Homo sapiens: one gene and its partner. The protein of the gene in region 1 interacts with the protein of each later gene in a pairwise test. Each region holds a gene or a part of one and is shown on either strand. Other genes may lie near its edges.

Evidence for each region. The genes of interacting proteins can lie anywhere in the genome.
Region 2: the proteins of RBL1 (region 1) and DYRK1A interact in binary tests that used the Homo sapiens proteins (3 or more experiments, as listed by UniProt).

What each region holds. Positions count from the first base shown.
Region 1 is NC_000020.11:37,085,859-37,089,511, forward strand, and holds part of RBL1 (retinoblastoma-like protein 1), read right to left. Parts: intron 3,265-3,653; coding exon 3,131-3,264; intron 1-3,130. UniProt on the Homo sapiens protein: Key regulator of entry into cell division. Directly involved in heterochromatin formation by maintaining overall chromatin structure and, in particular, that of constitutive heterochromatin by stabilizing histone methylation.
Region 2 is NC_000021.9:37,513,243-37,516,895, reverse strand, and holds part of DYRK1A (dual specificity tyrosine-phosphorylation-regulated kinase 1A), read right to left. Parts: 3' UTR 1-3,653. UniProt on the Homo sapiens protein: Dual-specificity kinase which possesses both serine/threonine and tyrosine kinase activities. Exhibits a substrate preference for proline at position P+1 and arginine at position P-3.

The DNA of each region.
Region 1 (3,653 bases):
CAGGATGGTCTCGATCTCCTGACCTTGTGATCCACCCGGCTTGGTCTCCCAAAGTGCTGGGACTACAGGCGTGAGCCACCGCGCCCAGCCTTGTTTTTTTAATTTGAAATGGAGTCTTGCTCTGTCGCCCAGGCTGGAGTGCAGTGGCGCTATCTCAGCTCACTGCAACCTCCACCTCCAAGGTTCAAGTGATTCTCCTGCCATGTACTGCTCTACATTTGTTTTGTTATAATTCTTTTTTGTTTAGTTCCCCCAGAATCTGTCATTACAAAGATTTTTGAAATTATATGAACAATGACAAACATTGACAGAAAAAGATCAGATTGTTTTATACTAACAATGATAATGTCTTGCTCAATTAAAAAATTAACCCCATTGATCTTCATTTAATTTTTATCATCTTATTTTATTTTTAGAACCAAAGTTGTTTAAAAACATTTTTTTTAGGCTGGACACGGTGGCTTACGTCTATAGTCCCAGCACTTAGGGAGGCCGAGGCGGGTGGATCACCTGAGGTCAGGAGTTTGAAACCATCCTGGCCAACATGGTGAAACCCTCTCCCTATTAAAAATATAAAAAATTAGCCAGGCGTGGTGGCGGGCGCCTGTAATCCCAGCTACTGGGGAGGCTGAGATCAGGCCATTGCACTCCAGCCGGGGCAACAAGAGCAAAACTCCGTCTCAAAAAATAAAAATAAAAAAAAATTTAAATTTAGCATCAACTAAAACCTATTTGCCATTTCTGAATAGGGCTTTAAACTTTGCTCCTCTTCTATTCTGGAAACACAGGAATAGCAAATAGACAATGACCACAAATAGTTTTGTCCCAGAAACAAAGAATATTAGCATGAATCCAAACTGGATAGCTAAATTTGTTTTGTTTCCTATCCAGCCAAATAATTCTATATGCTTGATACTAGAGTAAGTAAAAGATGTATCTGAGACCCATAGAGTAGCTGCAAGGTGAAAAAAATTAATATACAGTAGAGAAATAGGACAACATCTTGACCAGATGACAAAAATTAACATCACCAATGAGATGCAGATGGATAACACATGCCATCATCAGATGTGATATCCTCAGGAGACAAAATCACTTATACAGTTTTCCATCAGGGAATGACTAACCTGCATCTAATCAAAAGTTAATAGGAGACAAATCCAAAATTGGGAACCATCTATTAAAAGAGGGGATGAGGGTGGGCACAGTGGCTCACGCCTGTAATCCCAGCACTTTGGGAGGCTGAGGCAGGCGGATCACAAGGTCAGGAGTTTGAGACCAGCCTGGCTAATATGGTGAATCCACATCTCTACGAAAAATACAAAAATTAGCTGGGCGTGGTGGCACATGCCTGTAGTCCCAGCTACTCAGGAGGCTGAGGCAGGAGAATCGCTTGAACCCGGGAGGCGGAGGTTGCAACGAGTCCAGATTGCACCACTGCACTCCACCTGGGCAACAGAGTGAGACTCTGTCCCAAAAAAAAAAAAGGCTGAGGCAAGAGGACCACTTAAGGTCAGGACTTTGAGACAAGCTTGAGCAACATAGTAAGACCCTGTCTCTATAAAAAGATTTAAAAATATCAGTCAGGCATGGTGGCACATGATTGTAGTCTCAGCTACTTGGGAGGCTGAAGCAGGAGGATCATTTGAGCTGAGGAGTTTGAGGCTGCAGTGAGCTAAAAAGGTGCCACTGCACTCGAGGCCTGGGCAATACAGCAAGACTCGGCCTCTAAAAAAATTTTTTTTAATTAAAGAAAGGGACAAAGTGATTGTGGATTATATTCTTCAAAAATGGTAATGTCATAAAAGAAAAAGAAAGGCTGTGGAAATGTTCCTAATTACAGAAGAATAAATAGACATGATAAGCAAATGCAATACCTGATCCTTAATTAGAAATTGTACTTCCAGGAAAAAAAATGCCATAAAGAACATTATTGAATCAACTAACAAAACTAGAACAGAGTTAGCAGGTTAAATAAAATTATTTTATCAGTGTTAATTTTGCTGAAGTTGGTAGCTGTACTGTAGTTATTTAAAGAAATACACAGTGAAGTATTTTGGGGTAAAAGGCTACAAATGTATGCTACTTAGACTGAAATGGTTGAGGATAAAAAGAGAAAGATCTGGCTGGGAGTGCTGGCTCACGCCTGTAATCCCAGCATTTAGGGAGGCTGAGGCGGGTGGATCACCTGAGGTCGGGAGTTCGAGACCAGCCTGACCAAACATGGAGTAACTCCGTCTCTACTAAAAATACAAAATTAGCCAGGCGTGGTGGCACATGCCTGTAATCCCAGCTACTCGGGAGGCTGAGGCAGGAGAATCGCTTGAACCCAGGAGGCAGAGGTTGTGGTGAGCTGAGATTGCACCACTGCACTCTAGCCTGGGCAACAAGAGCAAAACTCCATCTCAAAAAAAAAAAAAAAAGAGAGAGAGAGAAAGATCTATATATTGAAGAAAGAAAAATCAAATGAGAAAGCAAATGGGATAAAATGTCAATAACAGGTGACTCTGAGTCAAGGGTATATGGGTATTGTCCTTTTCTTATTTTTGTAACTTCTCTGTAAGCCTAAAATTATTTCCAAATTTTAAAAAATTAATTTTAAAAAGTATAGCTAAAGATTCAACACAGAGGTTTCTAGCAGAATTTGAGAAAGGCAGAGAAAGAATATGAAAATTGGGAAAGGATTATCTATGTTATAACTTAGAATTAAATGAAGTCACACAGTGGCTCACGTCTATAATCCCATAGCACTTTGGGAGGTTGAGGTGGGTAGATCATTTGAGGTCAGGAGTTCGAGAACAGCCTGACCAACATGATGAAACCCCATCTCTACTAAAAAAAAAAAATACAAAAAATTAGCCGGGCTTGGTGGTGTGTGTCTGTAATCCCAGATACTCAGGAGGCTGAGGCATGAGAATCACTTGAACCCAGGAGGCAGAGATTGCAGTAAGCCAAGACTGTGCCACTGCACTCCAGCCTGGCTGGCACAGTGAGACTGCGTCTCAAAAATAAATAAATAAATAAATAAATAAAATAAAAATTAAATGAAGTCAAATGATCTCAAAACAAGAGAAAACTGATTCCAAAATTTAGAGCTTATATAACATTTAAAAACATCAAAGAGGTTTACCTTAATTTAGCTGAACGTAGTATTCTGGTAAGTGAAACACAGTTGCCTTCCATGATACCCTTTCCAACCGTGGGAATAATGCTTTTGCGGCATGCAACATATAATGAACATGCCAACCAGTGTGTAACTTCTCCCTGGCAAGCAAAAGACAAACAGCAAAACAGGTATAATATTATGTTAAAATGCTTTAATTCTAGAAACAAGAGATGTAGAATTATCTGGTCTCAATTTTCCTTATGTAGATAAAGGGCCAGAGAAGTGAAGATATTTGCCCAAGGTCACAAAGCTGTTAGTTGCAGTAATGGGTATAAAACTCCTTACTCTTAGTTCTGTGTTTTTACAACTATAACATGCTAAATTAATATTAATCTAAAGATAAAAGCCTGGCTTGGTGGCTCATGTTTGTAATCCCAGTAACTCGGGAGGCTGAGGTGCGAGTATCACTTGATGCCAGGAGTTTAAGACTAGCCAGGGCAACGTAGACTCTAAAAATGAAAATAAAAAAATTAGCCAGGCATGGTGG
Region 2 (3,653 bases), on another chromosome or scaffold:
GTTTCAAATCAGCGTCCAGTTGGAGAAACACTTTGTCTCCTAAGATTTAAAGTAGGAAATTAGAAATAAATACTGACAAATACCTGACAGTCTCAGTGTTAAGGTAGTGTTATTTTTTTTAAAGTTCTGATGCAAGAACACCCACTGAGAGCAGCCAAAATCTGGGACCTTGGCTATGCATAATGCCAAAGAGAGCCAAACACACCAAGCGATGAGCCACTTACCTCAATGAACATGTCTTCCACAAAACAAGCATCCAGTGCCTTCAACACAGGCATACGTCAAAAATTCCTGGTCCAGGGTGAAAGCCCAGTAGGCATCCACAGGCTGGTTCTCAGTGGATTCATTTGGATTAAGGTTAGTCATTAAAAGGGAGGATAACAAATAAGCTATCTTCTTAGGGTTTCTTCTCTTGTTCTTTGTACTACAAATTACTTGGTGATGTATGTTTTCACGCAAGGAAACAGGCCTAGATAAGAAACCAGGGTTATGAAAATCAGAACTTCTCCTCTACTCTCCCTGACACCAAAGGTTTTCCAACGTCTGGTCAACAGACATCCCTAGCAGATTTTTAAGAAATCTGAATGAAGTCTGGGTATACCGAAGTCACGCACGGCTTTTGTCCCCATTACATTTTCAAACTTCCTTCATATATAGCAGTAAGACCAAGTCATGTATTTGGAATGAACCATCTGGTCTATTACATACAGTCTACCACTATAAAAATGGACATAAAAATGAGTCTTGAACTTGTATTCTGTCTATGGGGATACCACCCAGAATGCACCGGATCGCATCTGAACCTGCATTCTGCGACTATCAAAATAAAGGCAGGCCCAAAGGAAACTGAGAAACTGGCCTAGAACTGAGTGCCTGCTATCTCGTCTTCGTGTGTATTTTGATTATGTATCTCCCTATTGGAAGAACAGAAAAGTTCAACACCACAAAAGCTGGGAAGCAGTACAGGGGCAAACTCAATGGTCACTTGTGAGCCTAACATAATTACTGAATCTTTCATGATTTTTTACATGTAGTTTTAAATAAAAATGTCGGTTTTTTTTTTTCAGCCCAATATCCATGTGCCTAGGTAAAATTCTCACACCCTAAGAAGAAAACTAATGGAAGTTTTCCTTTCTTACATGTGGTTAACTTCAACTTTACGCAACCAACCTTAATTTTACAGATTCACGCTTAACTTTTAAATAAGCATCTTGCCTCTCGAAAGCCACCTTAATATATACTGAAGCAGGTGAATTTGTAAAAAGAGAAGACTTTAGGTTAGCAATTGAATCACAGTGGCAAGAATTCTAGAATTCTGATATGGCCCCGTACGAGGAGTTAGGGAAGGAAGAATGAGTATTCGTATTCCTTCCTTCATCCAAGCACGTCAAAGCATATCAGAGAAAACCATCAGACCCTCACATCCAGTCGAAATGCTACCAACTAAAATATGAGCATTTTGAATCACAAAATTATGTAAACATTCAAATAAAAAAATCAATGTGAAAAATCAAAATGATCTGTTAAACCTCCAATTTTTACTTTCAGAGATTGCTGATGCCTATGTCAATGTATCTCAAATAGTTTCCTTTTTACACATTTAACTCAACTTTGATACTATACCTACCAGACCTGGACCAGTTTAATTGCATAGGAAGATTTTTACTATGTTTACATTTTTCTTAAATTAATTTTTAAAAAAGCATAGTAAAGAGTCTGAGGACAAATTATTCAACTGTTTATCATACATAAGACCGCATGACTATAATACAAAGGGGGGTTCTTTTTTCATTTAACGTTACAATATACACAGCAAGTCCGGACTAGATCTTACAATCTGAACACAGGTATTTAACCTTTTCCATGCTGTTTATGTTTACAATGCACAGAAGTCCTGTAACCAAACTGTGTAGTAAAGCACACAAAACTGGACTGTAACATAACACAGTATGCAGAAGCATTGGATTTTATGATTTTCTTTACGTAAATATCGGTTTAAAAACTGCTTTAGTTTTTTGGTGCTTGCTAAGATGTGGCAACCAGCACAGAAAAAAAAAATGACCTGACCCATATGATATCTTAACCTTATATTCCTAAACAGCAGTAACTACTGAATTCCTTTTGATATTGCTATACTCAAGATGATATCCTTTTATTCACTGTAAACCTTTATGAACTACCAAGTTCAAAAAAATCATCCACAGGCTTGACAGTTAATTACAAAATAAATATGGATTTCCTGATAAACAACAAAAAGTTTTTGTAGTTTATAAAAACGAGTATTTCCAAGTTTCCATTCACATTTACATAGTGTTTAGCCTTTCTTTTCTCACTGTTTACATATAAAAACCTGCTTTTGTTCAGAAAAAAAATTGACCTAGTCAGCCACATGGAATTGACCAATAGAATGAAACGCGGTGTTCTGCTGAGTCATCTTAAACAGGTTATCGGCAGAGGTAGATTACTGCTTCTTTTCTAGGCTTCTTTTGATCCTGGACAGGTAAATTACTTATCTTCATTCTCCCAATTCAACCGCTCAAAAGTGTCACACCCCAAAATTGGTCAATTTAAAATGGGAACACAAATTTAGCAACTGCCAGACTGTGTTACATTAAGGCAGCGTAATCTCAACACGAGGCACCTGTTAAATACCAGCCTGTCTGCTCAGGTCACGCATGAGAGTTCTGCTTTGCTTGCACTCATACTCTGGACCTGTTGGTGCAATCAAGGTCTTGCTTTCAAGTTTACAAGTAGGTTAATCAGGAATACAAGAATCAACTGCTGGTTCCATAGCTTCTGGATCCAGTGTCCCTTTACCTTCAGAAGCCTGAACACACTTAGAATGTAACAGATGTTGTAATCTTGAATTAGATGTCAATCTACTATGTTCAGTACACAGATTGCTGTAAATGTATTGGCTATGGATTCAACAACAGTTCCAGTTTTGTTTAAGCAATAGTACAGCCATAATTTTCAACTGACATTTAAAAATGGTCTAGTTACACCTTGTGTCAAAGTGCAGAACTGCTACATTATTGGTTACAGACATCTATGTGCTATAAAAACAGCTTTGGTACAATAAATTATCAAAAAAGAAAATAAATTTTTGTAAAATTCACAGCATAATTGTGAGGCAAAAAAGCAGTCACATAAAATTCTGCATTTTTTAAAAATGTTCAGGATGAACAGAAGACATCTTTGTGCAGAAGAAATGGTGGAGATACCACGTGCCGAGAAAAAGCAAAAGAAAAAGTAAAAAGCAGGAAGGGACACAGCTGTAGCTATTTCCATCAAAGCAAACCACTACTTCTGTGACCTTCAACCAATAAGGAAGTCAACTTTATGACACACGCAAAGTGACCTTGCAATACCTTACAATTAGTGGGTCACAAAAGTCTATTTTAAAAGAAAGGCCTCTTGAATTACCCATTCTCTGTGTTTTCAGCATTAAGGACTGTCTGCAAAAGCATGTCCAAAAGTGATTGCATCTGAAATGGTAGGCTCTTCTAATTTCGAGTCCAAATCCATAAGGCCAAAGGTTATCCCAAAGACCACCACTCAGACCTCCCCAGGACTGGCCACGACCGACCCGTTGATTGCTTCTCAGTGCACCTTGGTTAGGAGACCAGTCACGTTCCATCCTATCTTCCTGT